Linked DNA regions of Homo sapiens. The protein of the gene in region 2 interacts with the protein of the main gene of each other region in a pairwise test. Each region holds a gene or a part of one and is shown on either strand. Other genes may lie near its edges.

Region 1 (9,430 bases), on a different chromosome or scaffold from region 2:
AGCTCGCATTTTTACTAGGAGGGTGGGTGAGGGAGATCATGACAATAAGCAAGCATTAGTCAATTCTAATCATGTGAGAGAGTATTTTTTTGCAAAGACAAAAAAAGGAAGCAGCACAGCAGGAGCTATTGGGAGTGCCAGGGTCGGATGGGAAACCAGGTTTTGAGGATCAGTAACATGGCAGGACAGTTGTCTTTGAGATGGCGACAGCATGAACCAAGACTTGAGGAAGGAGAGGTGACTGGTCATTATCGTAATCCTATAGGAATCATCTTGGTTCTAATTTGATAATTTGCTTTTTGGTAAATTAAGAAACCCTATTAGGGACATAGGGGAATGCTAAAGAGATGATAAAAGCCCTCAACAGTTTTGTTAAGAATTAAAAGTCTTAGCCTTTCTCTGTGCCCCGTAAGTCATAGTTTATGAAAATATGCTTATTTCAAAGCTAAAATACCAGACTAGTTAGAAAATTTCAAATTATGGAACTCATTTTTCCAAGACTGCTATTCAGTCTTGGAATGTATGACAAAAGCTGGAAAGTTCTGTCTGTTCTGACTTGTGTCTGTCCTAACTGGCTCCAGGAGTCCGCATGTGTGAAAGTGGTGGCTGCTGTGAGCATGTGGGATGTGTGCATGGAGAGAGGACACCGGGACCTGGAGCAGTTTGAGAGGGTGCATCGCTACATCAGTGACCAGCTCTTCACAAACTTTGTAAGTAACTTTTTCTTCAAAAGTTGGCCCCCTTCCCAGGGTCATCTCAAATACATCAGCTCATGCAAGTCAGTTCCACGGACACAGGCCCTGGGCACCAGGCATATTAGTCATCCTTTAGCTATATTCATATTGGGGTTTGATATTCACAACATGACTTTCAGTTAGTTAAAGGGAGATGTAGGACCTGTGTCTGTACAAACAGGTTTTTTAAAAAATAGCTTGTGATTAATTTAGTTTCAGAGGACAAAGGAAAACTAGGCAATGAACTCTGATCAAATAAAAGCAACTATAGGAATAATAACTTGAAGAGGGTCCAGGCACAGTGGCTCATGCCTGTAATCCTAGCACTTTGAGAGGCAGAGGCAGGCAGATCCCTTGAGGTCAGGAGTTCAAGACCAGCCTGGCCAAGGTGGTGAAACCCTGCCACTACTAAAAATACAAAAATTAGCAGGGCATGGTGGTGGGCACCTGTAATCCCAGGTACTCAGGAGGCCGAGGCTGGAGAATAGCTTGAACCCAGGAGGAGGAGGTTGCAATGAACCAAGATAGCACCACTGTACTCCAGCCTGGGCAACAGAGCAAGACTCTGCCTCAAAACAAAAACAAACAAACAAACAAAAAAAAAACCTTGAAGACAAATATTTAGGAATATAGTTAATATGTTACCAAAGAGATTTGAGATGGTAAAAACTACTTTAAGTCCGGGCATGGTGGCTCACGCCTCTAATCCCAGCATTTTGGGAGGCCGAGGTGGGCGGATCACCTGAGGTTGGGAGTTGAGACCAGCCTGACCAACATGGAGAAACCCTGTCTCTACTAAAAATACAAAATTAGCCAGGTGTGGTGGCGCACACCTGTAATCCCAGCTACTCGGGAGGCTGAGGCAGGAGAATTGCTTGAACCTGGAAGGTGGAGGTCATGGTGAGCCGAGATCATGCCATTGTACTCCAGCCTGGGCAACAAGAGCGAAACTCTGTCTCAAAAAAAAATTGCTTGAAGTACTGAAGACCAAATTTCTTGAGAAATTCTAAATCCATATATATGGGATTGTTTAATCCCTTGTAGAAAAAACTGGATGGGGTTTGATAGTTTTGTAGGGATCTATAAGTGGCCTGAGGGTGAAAAAGACATGCCCACCTGGGGAGCTGACAGGTGTTCTAATTGTACATTATTTTTAATAAGATGCTACTAAGTACTACTAAGTACCTGTTTATGTTCTTTATGTATTCATTGCCTTACCCTTAATGTCTGTGTGTTAGAAAGAATTAAAGAGAAAAATTTATAATTTTTGTTTTGAGATGGAGTCTCACTCTGTCACCCAGGCTGGAGTGCAGTGGCACAATCTCTGCTCACTGCAACCTCTGCCTCCCAGGTTCAAGCGATTCTCCTGCCTCAGCCTCCCAAGGAGCTGGGACTACAGGCATGCACCACCATACCTGCCTAATTTTTGTATTTTTAGTAGAGACGGGGTTTTGCCAGGCTGGTCTCAAACTTCTGACCTCAAGTGGTCTGCCCACCTTGGCCTCCCAAAGTGCTGGGATTATGGGCATGAGCCACCGTTCCCAACCAAGAGAAAAATTCTTTGGAAGATAAAAATGGGGGCTGTGTGCGGTGGCTGACTCCTGTAATCCCAACTTCTTGGGAGGCTGAGGCTGCAGTGAGCTGAGATTGCGCCACTGCACTCCAGCCTGGGTGACAGAGCAAGACTCCGTCTCAAAAAAAAAAAAATGGGTATTACCTAGTTATGATTAAAGGTTTATGAGTGTATGAAAGTTATTCCACCTCAGATTTATGTAACAACTAACTCTGGAGTTAAATTCAAGCTATGTAGACATGTACACATAATAAATGTTACCAGGTAAACTTCACGGCTGGTTTCTAATGCACACATCATATCAGTGTGCAGCTTAGCATTTATCACCTCAAGGAGGTCAAGTGAGATTAGTGTATTTTACATACTCCTTGATGTGGGAATTGAAGGTATCTAGTGAGAAGTCTTGTGGAGTATTTAAGTAGAGGCTAGTGATGGGTTAGTAGAATACTGTTGTAGATCTGTATGGGTTTAGCTTGTGTACTAGAAACGAAGTAGGTGGTTCAGGACACAACAAAGTCAGCCTTAAGAGTGACTTGGATAATCACAAATGTGGGATGCTGTCCAGCTGAGCAATGTGCCTTTCTCGTCCCTACAGAAGGAGAGGACAGAGCGGCTTGTCATCTCCCCCTTAAATCAGTTACTGAGCATGTTTACAGGGCCCCATAAGCTGGTACAGAAACGCTTTGACAAGCTCCTGGACTTCTATAACTGTACAGAACGGGCAGAAAAGCTAAAGGACAAGAAGACCCTGGAGGAGCTGCAGTCGGCCCGGAACAACTATGAGGCCCTGAATGCACAGCTGCTGGATGAGCTGCCCAAGTTCCACCAGTACGCCCAGGGCCTCTTCACCAACTGTGTCCACGGCTATGCTGAAGCCCACTGTGACTTTGTGCACCAGGCTCTGGAGCAATTAAAGCCACTGCTTTCGGTGAGTTTCTTACCTGTTCAGTGGGATGGTCATCTATAGCCTTTGCCTGGTATTTTTCTGGGAAAAATGGTAGCATGGTTTGAAAAATTATCTGAATTAGATAAACTGAATGTGTCGCTAGTTCATCCCTCAGGAAATCTTAATCCCTTGATGGTGTCATGAAGCCTGTGGCTTCTGAAACATCTTTTCCCTCTTGAGCAGTTCCCAGAAGAGCCAGCCAACCTGGCCCGCAGGCAGTGCCCTGGAGAACTTGTGTCTTGCATCAGGCTGCTGTGTCGGTAGCTCAGAGAATGAGCTGCAGCTGAACTTTAGCTTCCAGTGGTTCTAAGGAGACTGTCAATCCGGGATCTTTCATCATGTTTTCTTCTTTTCTCTGGGATCTTTTATCGTGTTTTCTTCTTTTCTCTATCTCTGCTCTTCCCATGGACCCCAGTTACTCAAAGTGGCTGGCAGAGAGGGAAACCTTATTGCCATCTTCCACGAAGAGCACAGCAGAGTTCTGCAGCAACTCCAGGTTTTTACCTTCTTCCCGGAGTCTCTTCCAGCTACCAAGAAGCCATTTGAGAGGAAAACCATTGACCGCCAGTCTGCTCGAAAGCCACTCCTGGGCCTGGTGAGTAGGGAACTGAGAGCAGCAGCCCCGCCTCGGGGTAAAGAGGGGGAACCCTGCAGCCAGGCCCCCAGGCCCAGATCCCACTATTGGAGTTTCTGTATTTCATAATAAATGGAGAATAGTGTTGCATTCTCACCCATCATGGGCTCATGCATTCGCCATTTTTTTTTTTGAGACAGAGTCTCATCTCATTCTGTTGCCAGGCTGGAGTGCAGTGGTGTGATCTTGGCTCACTACAACCTGCGCCTTCTGGGTTCAAGTGAATTCTCCTGCTTCAGCCTCCCAAGTAGCTGGGACTACAGGCACACGCCACTACGCCCAGCTAATTTTTCTATTTTTTAGTAGAGATGGGGTTTTACCATGTTGGCCAGGGTGGTCTCGATCTCTTGACCTTGTGATCTGTCCGCCTCAGCCTCCCAAAGTGCTGGGATTACAGGCATGAGCCACCATCCCCAGGCTTTTTTTGTGGGGGGGAGGGGATTAACCCAGTATTAATTCATTGGTTCATTAATTCAGGAAACTGATTTAAGGGTATATTAATTCTGCCAGGCCTATTTTTTATGATGTATTCATAAAAGTAATACAGCTAAACAGTTAATGGTTGGCTGCCTTTTTTACCTGGAGTTAGTCTTTTTTAACCTCAGTTCTTCCATATTTTAAAAATTAGCATAAGGCACACCAGCTAGAGGACTGCTGATACATCTTTGCTTACAATATTTTTGCCCCATATGATCCCATAGACATTAATTTATATTACCTTAAAAGGGAGAATTATGATTTTTTGAGACAGAGCCTTGCTCTGTCACCCAGGCTGGAATGCAGTGGTCTGATCTTGGCTCACTGCATCCTCCACCCTCCCAGGTTCAAGTGATTCTCCTGCCTCAGCCTCTTGAGTAGCTGGGATTACAGGCATGCGTTACCATGCCTGTATTGTATTTTTAGTAGAGACAGGGTTTCGCTATGTTGACCAGACTGGTCTCCAAGTCCTGGCCTCAAGTGATCTGCCCACCTTGGCCTCCCAAAGTGCTGGGATTACAGGTGTGAGCAACCATGCCCAGCCTGAATTTATTATTACCTTTTTTCTTATGACTTCCTTGCTTTCACAGGTGGGGAAGTCAAGATAGATGAACCTAACCGAGAATGTCCCTAACAAAATACAAGAAGACCTACTAATATCACTTAGATATTTTGATTTTTTTTAAGTGGCATTTTAATCACGTTTGTCACAAGAAAACAAATGTAAGAATAGGTGTGTGTTAAATTTTCTTAACTATAAAGGCATCAAACATTGCCTAAGGGCTCTTGATTTTTACCTAGCCACATGGGCTGGCTTCATCACAAAAACATCTGATGGGAGTGAGATGGGCAGTGACTGACTGTCCCTGCCTCATTTCTGAGACTGGCCACATGTTGGGATGAAATATGGCTGCTGGGGTAGTGGCCACTGAGAGATTTTTGTTAACGTCTTACCTTTCAGCCAAGTTACATGCTACAGTCAGAAGAACTCCGGGCCTCCCTCCTGGCCAGGTATCCCCCTGAAAAACTCTTCCAGGCAGAACGGAACTTCAATGCTGCTCAAGACTTGGATGTCTCACTTTTGGAAGGTGACCTGGTGGGTGTGATTAAGAAAAAAGACCCCATGGGCAGCCAGAACCGCTGGCTGATTGACAATGGAGGTAAGAATTTTAAGCAGCAGAGGACTGTAACTGGAAAAAAAAAATAGTAGTTTTGGCTGCACCCGAATCTGGACTAGGCCAGGAAAAAAAAGCAAAAAGTATCTTTGATTAAGGGGAAAAATAACCTGAAAAATAACCTTAACCTTCTCTAGAGAGTGAAGATCATTACTGAAACAAAACCTCTTTTTGTTTTGACAAATTCCAGAGGAGACACCGTTGCTTATCATGCAAGCTCTTGCCATATCTTACAGCACTTACAGGCAGGAAGTCCTGCCTCACGGAATCCTGTTCCTTCTTAGCCTGTTCCCAGTATGCCACAAAATAAGCTGCCCTCTTTTCAAATTTTTTTTTTTTTTTTTTTTTTTTTTTTTTGTGGCAGTCTTGCTCTGTTATCCAGGCTGGAGTGCAGTGGCACAATCATAGCTTATTACTCCTGGGTTCAAGGGATCCTCCTGTCCTAGCTGGGACTACAGGTATGCCATCATGCCCAGCTAATTTTTTAATAATTTTATAGATATTACGTCTTGCCATGTTGTCCAGGCTGGTCTCCAACTTCTAGGCTCAAGCCGTCCTCCTGCCTGGACCTCCTAAAATGCTGGGATTATAGGTGTGAGCCACCGCACCCAGCACCTCTTCCAGTTTCCATGAATTTGTCTTGTGGAAATTAAAAACCTGTGGGATTTCATTTGCTTTCTTCTCCCCATGACAGTTTTACCTCATGACTATTTAGGGAATTACTTTAAAAACAGCTTACAACTTTTTTGGAGGGAGAGTGATTTACAGAATTTAAGTAAGTGTACAAGGGATAATACTGATCTGTAATCCCTTTTTCCAAAATCCAAAAAGCTCTAAAAACACTTTTGCCAAAACCTGAATGAAGGTGATGTGAGACTATTTATAATTGTAACTTATCCTTTTGGTGTGAATAGTCATGTGTATGTATTTTTCATTTTTATTATTTTTTAAGACAGGGTCTAGCTCTGTCACCCAGGCTAGAGTGCAGCAGCACGATCTCAGCTCACTGCAACCTCTGCCTTCAAGCGATTCTCCTGCCTCAGCCTCACAAGTAGCACGCACCACCACACCTGGCTAACTGTTTGTATTTTTTGTAGAGACGGGGTTTCACCATGTTGACCAGGCTGGTCTCCAACTCCTAACCTCAGGTGTTCCATCCCGCCTTGACCTTCCAAAGTGCCAGGATTACAAGCATGAGCCACGGCACCTGGCCTTATTTTTTTTTAAATGCTTGATTGCAATCTGATTCAGCCAAGAGGTTGCTCACATCATGGGTGGATGACTACATCTCCAACATGAATGACACAAAAACATCAGAACTTTCCTATTTGCAATTATGTGAGATACTTTAAGTTTTAGTTTATAACTGACACATACTTGTTCATATCTATGGGGTACGGTGCGATAATTTTGAGATAGGGTCTAGCTTTGTCACCCAGGCTGGATTGTAGGGGCACAATCTTGGCTCACTGCAGCCTCCACCTCCCAGGCTCAAGCAATCCTCCTGTCTCGGCCTCCTGAGTAGCTGGGACCAGAGGCATGCGTGACCATGCCCAGTTAATTTTATTTTAGTAGAGACAGTCTCCCTGTGTTGCCCAGGCTATAAACTTGTCATTTCTTTGCAGAGATATCATTCAGAATCCTTGGCTTCTAGCCATCTTGAAATATACATTATCATTAGCTATAGTAACCTTACTGTGCAATAGAACACCAGAGCTTATTTCTCCTAACTTTGTACCTGTTGAGCAACCTCTCCCCAGACTCACCTCCCCTTCCACCACCCCCAGCCTCTGGTATCTAGCATTCTACTCTCAACCTCTATGAGATCAACTTGTCTAGATTCCACGTGAATGAGATTATATGGTATTTGTCTTTCTGCGCCTGGCTCATTTCACTTAACGTGTCCTCCAGGTTCAACCATGTGGCCGCAAATGACAGGATCTCATTCTGAATATTCATTAACAGAATTGATTACGGGGTGCTGACCCTGCTGGGGGGTTTTACAAAATATGTAGTATGGGTACTTGACTACCTTCCCAGAATTAAAAAGAATCTGAATTCCAAAACATATCTGGCCCTAAGCATTTTAGGTAGGGATTGTGGTCCCTATCTAGACAGACATTATGTATTCACCACCCAGAACTGAAAAATGTCACATTTCTTGGTTTCTTTAAAAGCATCTTGTGGATTTTTTTTCTCCCCACTTCTGCTTACACAGAACGAGAGATTAAAAGTGGGACACGAAGGACAGAGGATGGAGCCTGTTAGGGTGACATCAGGTGACAGCTACTGCTGGGGTCAGAGACAGATGGACCTAAAGTCCCAAGCTGTTTAAGAAACTGCTCCATCCTTCAGTTTTTATCTACTCAAACTTGAGAAGTGGTAGCAGGAAGCCACAGTATTCAGATCAGCTGTCAGGTACAGGAAATGCATCAAAGATCAATAGAGTAATGGCCATTGTTCTCATGGAGGCTACATACTCTGGGTCTGTGCCTTGACAGTGTTATGAAAAATTGTCACGTGGATGCTCACGCAATCCCTAATTTATACTTGAGTTTTAGCTGAAAGCCCCCTTGGTCATCTTGGGCAATTTATTAAAGTGAACCATGTGCAGTACACGTTACGTGTATATTCTAACAAACAGTTTCCTACGTTAGAACATCCTTCCAGTATATCCAGACTCTCAGAGCAAAGGATTCACGTGTCCTGGTGGGAAAGAGGGCAGGGAGGTCTATGGAGGGGCTTCTTGAGCTGAGGCTTTTTTTTTGAGACGGAGTTTCGTTCTTGTTGCCCAGGTTGGAGTGCAATGGCATGGTCTTGGCTCACTGCAACATCTGGCTCCTGGGTTCAAGCGATTCTCCTGCCTTAGCCTCCTGAGTAGCTGGGATTACAGGTGCGCACCACCACATCCGGCTAATATTTTCGTATTTTTAATAGAGACGGGGCTTCACCATGTTGGCCAGGCTGGTTGTGAACTCCTGACCTCTGGTGATCTGCCCTCCTCAGCCACCCAAAGTGCCTGGATTACAGGTATGAGCCACTGTACCCAGTTTGTTTTGTTTTGTTTCAAATAGAGATGAAGTCTCGCTGTGTTGACCAGGGAACTGGGCTCAAGCAATCCTCTCATCTCAGCTTCCCAAAGAGCTAGGATTACAGGCGTGAGCTCCCGTGCGCTGCCGAGGCTGGTTCTTAACTCGGTCTTTTCCACACTTGCTGTATTTGAACATAGGCTTCATCAAGCCTTCCTCTTAGGCATGATCTCAGTGTCCTATGACATTCTCTTCCCATGCCGGTTCCCAGACATGGATTGTTTTCATTGCTGTCTTCTCAGTTGGCCATGGGCCTCCTGAGCATGCATCTGTTGTGAGGTTGTGAACATGAATGAACCGGCAGGCAGCTGCGGCTCTTCATCTCTACCTACACACATCACATCCTGGGACTGAGTGTTCCAAGCCGCTTTGTCACTAGGCATTTTATTTTGTGTCTCTCACTATTGGCCTGGCTTTTGAGTTTTTGTTTTACTCTTCATTTTACAGATGAATAACCTAGATCAGTTTTTTTTCTCTCAATGCTCCCTCTGTCTGTCCAGCCTTCTGCTAAGAGTTCTTGTTTATATTTCCTGTTTCCTTTGTAGTCACCAAAGGCTTCGTGTACAGCTCTTTCCTAAAGCCCTACAATCCTCGCCGCAGCCACTCCGATGCCTCCGTGGGTAGCCACTCCTCCACAGAGTCTGAGCACGGCAGCTCCTCCCCCAGGTTCCCACGCCAGAACAGCGGCAGCACCCTGACCTTCAACCCCAGCAGCATGGCTGTATCCTTTACCTCGGGGTCTTGCCAGAAGCAGCCTCAAGATGCATCTCCTCCGCCAAAAGAATGTGACCAAGGAACTCTC
Region 2 (9,242 bases):
GGGGACAGAATACTCAGGAGACACATTTTAGTTCTAGTTCTTCCAGGTACTAGCTGAGTGAATTCTAGTAAGTTACCAAGGGGGATCATAAGACTGCACTGCTTGCGCAGACATAAGCATGAAGTCAGACAAAGGACGGGAAAGCCATCTGAAAAGTTAGAAGCACTCTACACATGTGAGACAGCAACGGTAATCATAGGGGAAAGGACTTCACTGAGAAAAAAACTGAATAATGGTTTTGTTTGACCCAGAAGTTTACCTTCTTTATATTCCATTCATTTAACAATTACCTGTTAGATACCCACTATGTGCATGATACCCACTATGCGTACAAAAAGATGAAGAAGCTCTATGTCGCTCCTGTTCTCATGGGGTTGGTGTGGAAGGGAGGTGTACGTCTGTGATACTCAGAAGGATGCAGAAGTGCTACAGGAGAAGCACTATGGAAGTACAGAAGAAACCCAGCAAAGCACTTTGGAGTGGAGGATCAGAAGGAGTGGGGAGGAGAAATCACAGGCAGCCTGACCTGGAAGCCACTTGTGTCGGTCAATTTAACAATAGTACTTTCAGAGGCTCTTCATTTTAGGAAGTGGTTTGTAGGTTCTGCAAGTTTTTATCTTAACATTTTTCCTGAGCTGAGGCAAGTCAGGAAAAGGGAAAAAAGGCCCCATTCATATATTTAATAAACACTTCCTGACTGCCAGGAACAGTGCTAGGGAATAGCAATGACCACAAGACAGTCCCCATACTCAAGAACTCACAGACAAGTAAACCAGCCAGCGGAGTACAGATGCTGATGAAGGTCAGAAGAGCGGCACCCAGTGCAGCATGGCAGGGTGTGAGGGGCCACTCAGGGAAGACCCTCAGAGAAGGTGAAGCGTGGCCTGACTCTTGAAGGATGAGTAGATGCTGGCCTAGTGGACAGGGTGTGAGTGAAGGGGAAACATTTCAGGCAGAAGGGACAGTTATCCAGAGGCACATGGGCACGAGAGAGCAGGAGAAGCTTGGAGGATGGAACACACGGAGTGAAGATGGACAGCCAGGCCCAGAGGGCCTCAGAAGCCCTGGCCCAGAGTTGGGCCTCTATCCTGAAGATGATGGCAAGGGACTACAGGGTGAAAACAGGAAAGAAACAAAAAGGATCAAACATGAGGAACACCAAAGTGTGAAGGGCAGACAGAGGTAGAAGACCCCGGAAGAGTCAGAAAAATATCACTCCACTCATTTCACAGCAGGCTCAGGTGGCAAATTGTCAGCAGGAATGGCCACTCCATGCTACAGATGGAGAAACTAAGACAGAGAACAGCTCAATGCTTGACCAGGCCGCACTGTGAGTGGCTGAGCCAGAACCTGAACGCAGCACTCTAACTCCTACTCACACTTACCTGCTCTGCCTCTAATTTCCTTCCTTTTTGTCAAACTACTGGACCCCTAGGTATAGGGAGATTTCTTCCAGTACTCCCTTTTCCTCCTCGTTTAAGCCTAAAATCATCAAGGTGTATGGTTCAACAGGAGGCTACAATTCCTGGAGCCAGCTTAGATTGAGGTCACTATTCTTAATTCTACTTAATCCTCTCTCCATACCATAATAAAGCCACCTGAGTATACACTGGAAGATGGGGAAGAGAGACAGGAAGGGGAAAAGGGAGACAAGAGGGAGACAGAAATAGGGAGGGAGGGGGTGAGTGGGGAGGAGAGGAGAGAAAGTTGGGAGGGGGGCAAATGGCGGGGGGAGGTGGGGTGGACAATGGGAGAGAAAAAGAGAGCGAGAGAGAGAGAAGCATTTGGCTTGAGGCCAAGAAGTGAATCTGTGATCTGAGATGTGAATATCAAATGCCTTCTTCCTAGTAGGACAGACCACCGGGTCACTTTTCTGAAAGGCAGATGGGTGTATGGGGAGTGGATGGGTAGATGGTGCAGGAAGGCAGCAGGTACCCACTAAACAAACAGGGGGTGGGCGGGTTGCCTGCACAGAGGAAGCAGAGAACAAAGGCCTCTCACTCTTCATGCAAAGTCCACAGTGTGCAAAGGGCATCAATATTGGACATTTCTCACTGTGACATTTTGAAAGCTCAGCCTAGCCCAGAACAATGGTTACCCTCTGGGGACCATGGGCCATGTGCCTTATTTAATGATGGCTTGGCACAGCCCATGTACTTGGTGAACTTGACCTTGGGCATCAGCCTCCCATGATGGCTCTACGTCACTCTGGTCTCTTCCCCTAATGAGAATTCCAGTCTCACATGAATGGATGGATTCATTCTGGGGGCAGGAAAACCACTCAGGGAGTGAATCAGAAGGACCCAGCCCCGGTCTCCTTGCCAGCCATTGAGCTAGGAACTGAGTGTGATTGTGTGCCCAGGCGCCGGTGCTGTTCCCGTCTTTGAGAGACAGGGTCAGGGTCCACGCAAGAGATGACGTAGAAGCCCTTTAAGGGGGAAGAGAAAGGAATCTCAGCTTTGAGGGACAAAGCCACCCTTCTGGCTGTGACTCTCAGTCCAAGGAGATACCAAGATGTGCATGTACTGGTAAATTAAAGCTACTAGATGAAAATCTCAGCTCTTGTTAGACAGTTGTCAATCTCAATTCTCTCCAACCTGACAGGATAACCTTTAAGGAATGGGCTACTATTTTTTCAGAAGGGAAACTTTCTGTGAGACAGGTGGAAACAACCTGCTTCGGATCACCCAGAGAATCATTTACCTTTATTAGTTTCTGCTGTGCTCTTCTCCCAACTTGTGAAGGAAAGATTGGTTCAGTAAAGGCCAATCTAGGCAATATAAAGCATCTGTACTGCCTCATTTTCACTTTGAAAAATTAGGTAAGAACACTCCAAAGATTCAAGACGCAGCAGCCAAAAGGATATCTATATTGCAAGACTGGGGGGCCCAGAATGACACTGAAAGGACGTAATTCCTCTGGGAAAGGGAACTGAAGAATTGCCGCTTTGCCCACCACTAACTAGGTTATAACAAGACAGGGAAGGTAGCTTTTTAAGGCTCCAGCCCCTTATTGGCCTCCTGGAGCAAATGGTGGAGGGAAAAGCAGAAGCTCCTGCCGGGGCTTATTAGGACATTGCTTCAGGCTTTCCTCCCGTGCTTGCGGTGATTGTCTGACATTTGTCCATCAATCTTGGTCTAAGAAACAGGTGGGGGAGGGGACAGATGGTTCGCATTTTACTTTAGAGAAGTATCCCTGACACTGACTGATATCAGCTGCTTGCGTTCTCCACTGATGGCCAAAATTAAGCTTCAAAAGCCTTCCTGAAGGACATTCTGTTATCTTAATTCATTCATAACTGGTTATCATGCGCTTTGCATAAACAAACACACTAGCCTCTGAGGACAGAGTGGCAAATATGTTCCCTATGTCCATGGGCTGATTAATCTTGTACATCTCTGGGGCTCAATTTATTCACACACTATAGTTGAATCCCCTGAGGTCCAGGGTTGTGGCTATATAGGTCCTTGGGCCTGACGGTAAGGTAAGGTGCTGCATATGAGTATTCTCTAACCTCTAAGAAAGCCCCAGGAAGGCAGGCAAGTCACAATTCTCTCCTGTGAACATAAATAATCGAGAGCAACAAATGGGGATTGCCTTTTGGGCAAACTGAGTCTTACAAAATAAATACACCATTATGAAGTGTCTACTATGACCCAAGTATCACATCATACTGCAGCAACTGGAATTGTGACTCTATTACTCTAAGACTCCCTGGCTTCTTTTCTCATGGCATGATAGTTCCCATAAGTTTAAACTTAACCATGCCTATTTAGAGGGCAGGCAGTGAGTAATAGCTCTGGAATGATTAAAACCAGTCCAATCCCACAGTGGAAGGGTGTGTGCGGAGTGTAATTCTGGCCCCTTTAAAAAGAGAAGCAAGTTTTCCTTGTCTTTTGAAGCCTGCTAAGTCGTGCAAAGAGGATAGTTACCCAGAAGGGAGTGGGTTTTGATTAGTGAACTGGGTCCAGGCTGCCACAGCGAGGGCCACAGCTCTGGAGGGACTGGCGCGGGGCAGAGATGCCCACAGGAGAGAAAGACGACACTGACTCCACCTCAATGGGTGTTTAAAAAAGGAGGGAACAAGGAAGTCCCTCACTTCAAGGAGCTAGGAGGACGCGAGTCCGGCAAAACGGGTCAGACGCGGAGTCCCAGGCTAAGAGGATCATCCGCCACTCTCCCCGGGAGTCCTGCTGAGAGACTGCGACTCCGGAAAGCACCGAGGGAACGACCCTAGGGCAGGGGCTGTCGGGCCTTGCTCTGGGGCGGAGGGGTCGCGCGGGACCGGAGGGAGCCGGGACGCGGCACTGACACAGGGCCAGGGGCCTCGCGGGTCCGCGGGTCCAGCAGCTCCCGCCGCCTGGGCCTCACTCACCAGCTCATGGTCCCGAACCTGCGTCTGCCGCCGGGGTCCTCAGCCACAACTCGTTTCTCTAGGGTCACTTCCGGATTCAACCAGTCTCCAGGAAGTGACGTAAGCCCGCCTCTCTGCCCGGAAGAGGCGGTTGGGAGGCGGAGCCCGGCGCGTTAACCCTTCTGCTGCTGCGTGCTCGCCGCGGAGTTTCCCTTGCCGGCGACTCTCTGGCTCTGGCCAAGCGCTTAGACACACAGGCTGCAACGGGGGATGAGGGGAACCTCTGGGGGCGTTTTCTGCCTTCAACACTGACTCCTAAAGATCTCTTCACCTGACCATGCAGGGCCCTTAGCCGGGCTGTCCCCTCTGTCAAGTGGTTTCTAATCCAGAGACAGTGGCAGCAATTGTCTGTGGGAGAAGAAGCCATTTGGGATGGAGAAAGTGGAAAACTTACATTCTCTGAATGCTCTTTCCTATCTTTTACAGTTTGTACACCACACATGCATTACCTGTTACAAACAAACGGACGTTTCCCTTCCAAGATGGCACAGGGCTCTGAATATCAATAGATAGGTGCTTTTCAGGTTGGAATGTTTCCTAGAGTTATTCAACACAATAAGACGCAGAGTATGAGTTGTTCCCTGCCTTTCAGCCCTTCCCTTTGGTCTCCTCTACAGGACTCAAATGATGTAAATTGCCCCATTCGTTCTATTCCTTCATTTAACTAATACTAGTTGCACTAATATTAGTGTCAGGTACCGAGCCAACCTTAGGATACAGCTATCTCAGAGAAGTATCTGCCCTGCTCTTGTTCCTTCCCAGAGCTACTTTCCTGGAGGGAGAGACAAGCAGGCAATTATAATCATGCTATAGGATAGGATAGAATGAGGTGTGGTGGCAGCCTAGAAGGGGACCCTGAAGTAGCACATGGGGTTTTGGGGAAGGCTTCCAGGAGGAGCCAGTGTGTAAGCCAAGCCCTGAAGGCAGAATCGGGGCTAGCCAGGTGAATCTGAGATGAGGGGTGACGAGGCTCCAGGCAGAGGGAACTTACCATGGCTAAGACACAGACAGGACCAAGCAAGCAGCTGACTTGCCTCGGGTCTCCCAAAGTCAGAATTCAGGGCCTTAGTGGCTCACAAGTTGCCTGGGATTCTGGGCCGACTTGGTTTCCTCACCGCTAAGTACCTCCCTGCCTTGGAAGAGAGACAAGAAGGCAGTGAGGCCCGTGCAGGTGCTGCTGGGCCCCCAGTGACCTTCTCTCTAGGAATTCTCCTTCCTCAGATGGACCGGGATTGTTTCAGGGACTGCTTAGGGGGTTGCTAATCAATGACCTAGCGGGAAAAATATGACCAATGACCTAGAGCAGAAGTAGTGTATGATTTGTTTTGACCTCCTAGGGTGGAGTAGAGGGCTTGAGCAGGAGAGGTAGGAGGGTGGGCCACAGGATGCAGTCTCTCATTTGTGTTTTCTGTTTCCATTCTTGAGAGTCCATAGTTTGACTCAATTGACGTTTCCAATGGAGGTTGGATCCCCAAGCACATCATGCAGATCAGCTTCATTACCATGTTGTTCCTCAGGAAACAGGCCAAAATGAGCACAAGAGCAGCCTTGAAGAGTAAAGAGGAAGAGCAGAAGTCACCAAAGGGTAGCCTGGGCAGAGAGTGTGGGTAAAGGGAAAGAGAGAGTCCTTGCTGCTTTGCAGAGAGTGTGACGGATGGAAGGGCTGTTGTGGGTTTAGGAGCCTCCTGGCAGTTAGCACCTGTGAATAGTTTTCCCACCTGCTTCCTCCCTTCCCCATGTTCTGCCTCCCTCAGTTATGCCCCACAGGGATAAATATTTCCAAACGTTTTAGCCTAGGTAACTGCTATATCCTAGTAGAAGTCTGTTTCAGGGCTGGAGGGCAGCAGACACATCCTAGAGGACTAGAATGGATAAGTTCTGGACTACAAGTCTGGAGGAGTCTGCGGCTCTATTTCCAGTTCAACCTTTGACACTATAACTGACCTCAGATAAGTCACATCCCCTTTGTGGCCTTAGTCCCCTCATCTATAAGATGGAGTGGGTAGATCACATCCCAAAGTATCCAACATTGCAAGGTTCCAAGTCAGCTGTCTTGTTGACTCTAGAGGCCCTAGGGAAATAGGAGAATGGGAAAGGCAGGTGAACAGAGGGGCAAGCCCAGAGAAGTGGGCAGGTCTGAGGAACTGGTGATATCTTGGATAAAGCTAAATATGAATTTTTCTGGGGCTGTGCTGTTGACAGGTCACCTCGAAATCTTTAATGCAGCCAGCAGGATCTTTGAGGTTACTAAAAAGAATGGTGTCCTCCCAGGAGTCTGTCTGGAATGTGCCTGCTTGGTCTCCTTACCTGTGGCTCATTCGCTCAGCTAGAGGGGCACTGGGCTGAGGAGGGACAGTCAGGCATCCTGCTATCCTGTGTTCCTCCATGAGCCTGCTGTGCCATGAGGCATTGATCCCTGGGGAGCTGAACATGGAGACACACAAACACTTCCCACTGTTGTGAAAAACTCAGCCTGCAGGGTCGGGAGCTATGTCTTTCTTATTTATAACCAAAGGGACAGCATGATACAGATTGATCCTGCCCCTGCAGGGAAGGAATGGAAAAGAGAAAATTGGGTTTCTAAGTAGAAGCTGAGAGTGGAGGCGCTTTGGGTAGAGGTGGATACTCCTGGTTTCAAGCCTTGTAAATACTGATTCTTCCCCAGAAGTCTGAGCCTGAAGGTAAAAGACTGTTCAGGTGGCAGAGGTCTACTTCTGGGACAAAGCTGTTTACGAGGGGAAAAGCAGCAGCAGAACCTGCTCCACCATCAGCCCCCAACTTTTCCTTGGAGGTTTTTGCTCAGAAGTTGGTAAGCAGGTGCTTCCCACTGACTCTCATCTCTGGGATTGTCATGTCCTGTCTCTCCCAGCCTTTCCCACACAGAAGTCTAGGGCTGGCCCCCGAGTCTTTCACCATGCCAACCTCTTATTAGTGAAGAGTGAGCATTCCCAGAACCTGGACCTGGGCTGTCAGGGACTTCATTATAGCACTGGGCTAAGGCTGAAAAACTGAATGTGATAGGGCCAAATTGGTGGGCTCAGCTCTCTTGGAGCCCTAAAGGTCTTGATTCCTCAGGGAGGCTCCTGCAGATATTCAGACACAGGCCTCAGGTTTCTCTGTGGCCTCACTGCCCCACTTCTCCCTACTCTGTACCTGCTCAGTAGGACGTCTCAGAAAAATAGCTTTCCCAGGGCCTTTGGGGGGCAAGGACATAGGAGGAGGAGCAAGGGTGGGAGAAGAAGGAGGAAATCAGGGTGAGATTTCCAGTGGTGGGAGGCCCACACGGACTGCTCAAAGGTCAGGGTGAAGTGACACATCAGAAGCCAGGACAGCAAGAAGCGAGCAGAACCAGGAACGCCTGTCTGACCCGTGGCTCTGCCTCCAAGTGGCTTGAGGGAGTCTTGTCCCTCCTCTGGGCCTCATTTTCCTTGACTGCAATGGGAAAGGTCCAGGTTAGATCTGGGAGGGCGAATGGATATCATCCCATGTGCCAACTCTGATTGTCTGCTTGGAATGCAGTGTTGAGGATTCTGGGGAATCTGCCATCAGTGGGGAAGTTCTATGATTGATTAGTCATGTCTGCCTTGGACAAGAAAGAGCGATGAGATGGTTTATATTCCACTTTATTGTTATTATTTTTATTATAAGTTAACAATAATTGAGCACTCATGACATGACAGGCACTATTCTCTGCAGTTCACATTTAATCCTTGCCTCAACCCTGTGAGGTGGATACTACCATTATTATCATTTCACAGATGATGGCGCTGAAGTATAGCCATGAAGCAATAGTATAGCTTCATGAAGCAGTGAAGTGGGGTTTCTGACCTGAGCACCCTGGCTTTGATCCTTATGCTTTTGCCACTACAGTTTGCCATTTGACCTCCAACAACCTTTGGTTCTGTCAAGGCACAGTGAGGTCAGAAGCCAGCAGACAGATGGAACCAGGAGAAGCACCGCTACTAAATGGCCAGGTTGTGGGTGGAGGGAGGGCCACCCTATGACCAGGGTGCCAAGCTCAGCCTCATCCTGGGAGCTTTTATATGCTTCCTCCAGTACGGAGAGTGCCAGGCCAGCAGGTGGCAGCACCGGGCAGGGTGACAGGAAAGGGCAGCTCCTCACATGGCATGGACGTCCTTCAGGGATCAGAAGGCCCAGATGCTGGGGAAAGCAAGAACAAATGCGGGTGTGGAGGAAGGATAGCCAAGGACCCAGAGGAGGAGGAGTCCTGGCCTCTGACCTGCAGGAGCTGCCACAGCCAATGCTTTGGTTCCACCCAGCAGTGCAGGCCTCTCAGCTTGCATCTCGTGGTGCCTGCTGTGGGCTTTTTTTTTTTTTTCCTCCACTCTGGGAGAATGACTAACTTTAAGGACTAAAAAAAAAGTGTTTTGATTACACTGCCTTTTTACCAACTGGGAGCATTAGTCACCGTGGATTGCTGCAGATAACGGGGAAGGCAAGCAGCACCCCCTCCTCCCCCTCCTTCTCTCTGATTAGCTCACAGAAACCAGGAGGAGACATGAGTGAGGGAGAGTGCACCAGTAGGGAAAACAATCCCCCCGGGTTGATATGTTCCCTGGGCATCAGGCCAAGGGCTGTCCAGGCTGGGCTGCCCCCTGACAGGTAGGCTCTAAGATGGCCCCAGACCCACAATAGGAGGTACCCACTGGAGAGAACTGGCAGTAGGACCACTGAGTCCAAGGCTCCTGAGATTCTGAGTTGGGTCTGGATGGTCTGTTCCTCCAGGTAGCTCCAGGGCACACCCAGAAGGGGAAGTCAGAGGAAGTCACTGAAGACACAGCTCCTGAGCTGGGGCTCAGGATGTCTG

What was found.
Region 1: the proteins of BIN3 (region 2) and DNMBP interact in binary tests that used the Homo sapiens proteins (3 or more experiments, as listed by UniProt).

Annotation. Positions count from the first base shown.
Region 1 is NC_000010.11:99,880,105-99,889,534, reverse strand, and holds part of DNMBP (dynamin-binding protein), read left to right. Parts: intron 1-581; coding exon 582-710; intron 711-2,902; coding exon 2,903-3,235; intron 3,236-3,668; coding exon 3,669-3,848; intron 3,849-5,325; coding exon 5,326-5,524; intron 5,525-8,334; exon of another isoform or gene 8,335-8,432; intron 8,433-9,173; coding exon 9,174-9,430. UniProt on the Homo sapiens protein: Plays a critical role as a guanine nucleotide exchange factor (GEF) for CDC42 in several intracellular processes associated with the actin and microtubule cytoskeleton.
Region 2 is NC_000008.11:22,664,669-22,673,910, forward strand, and holds the start of BIN3 (bridging integrator 3), read right to left. Parts: upstream 4,454-9,242; 5' UTR 4,384-4,453; coding exon 4,376-4,383; intron 1-4,375. UniProt on the Homo sapiens protein: Involved in cytokinesis and septation where it has a role in the localization of F-actin.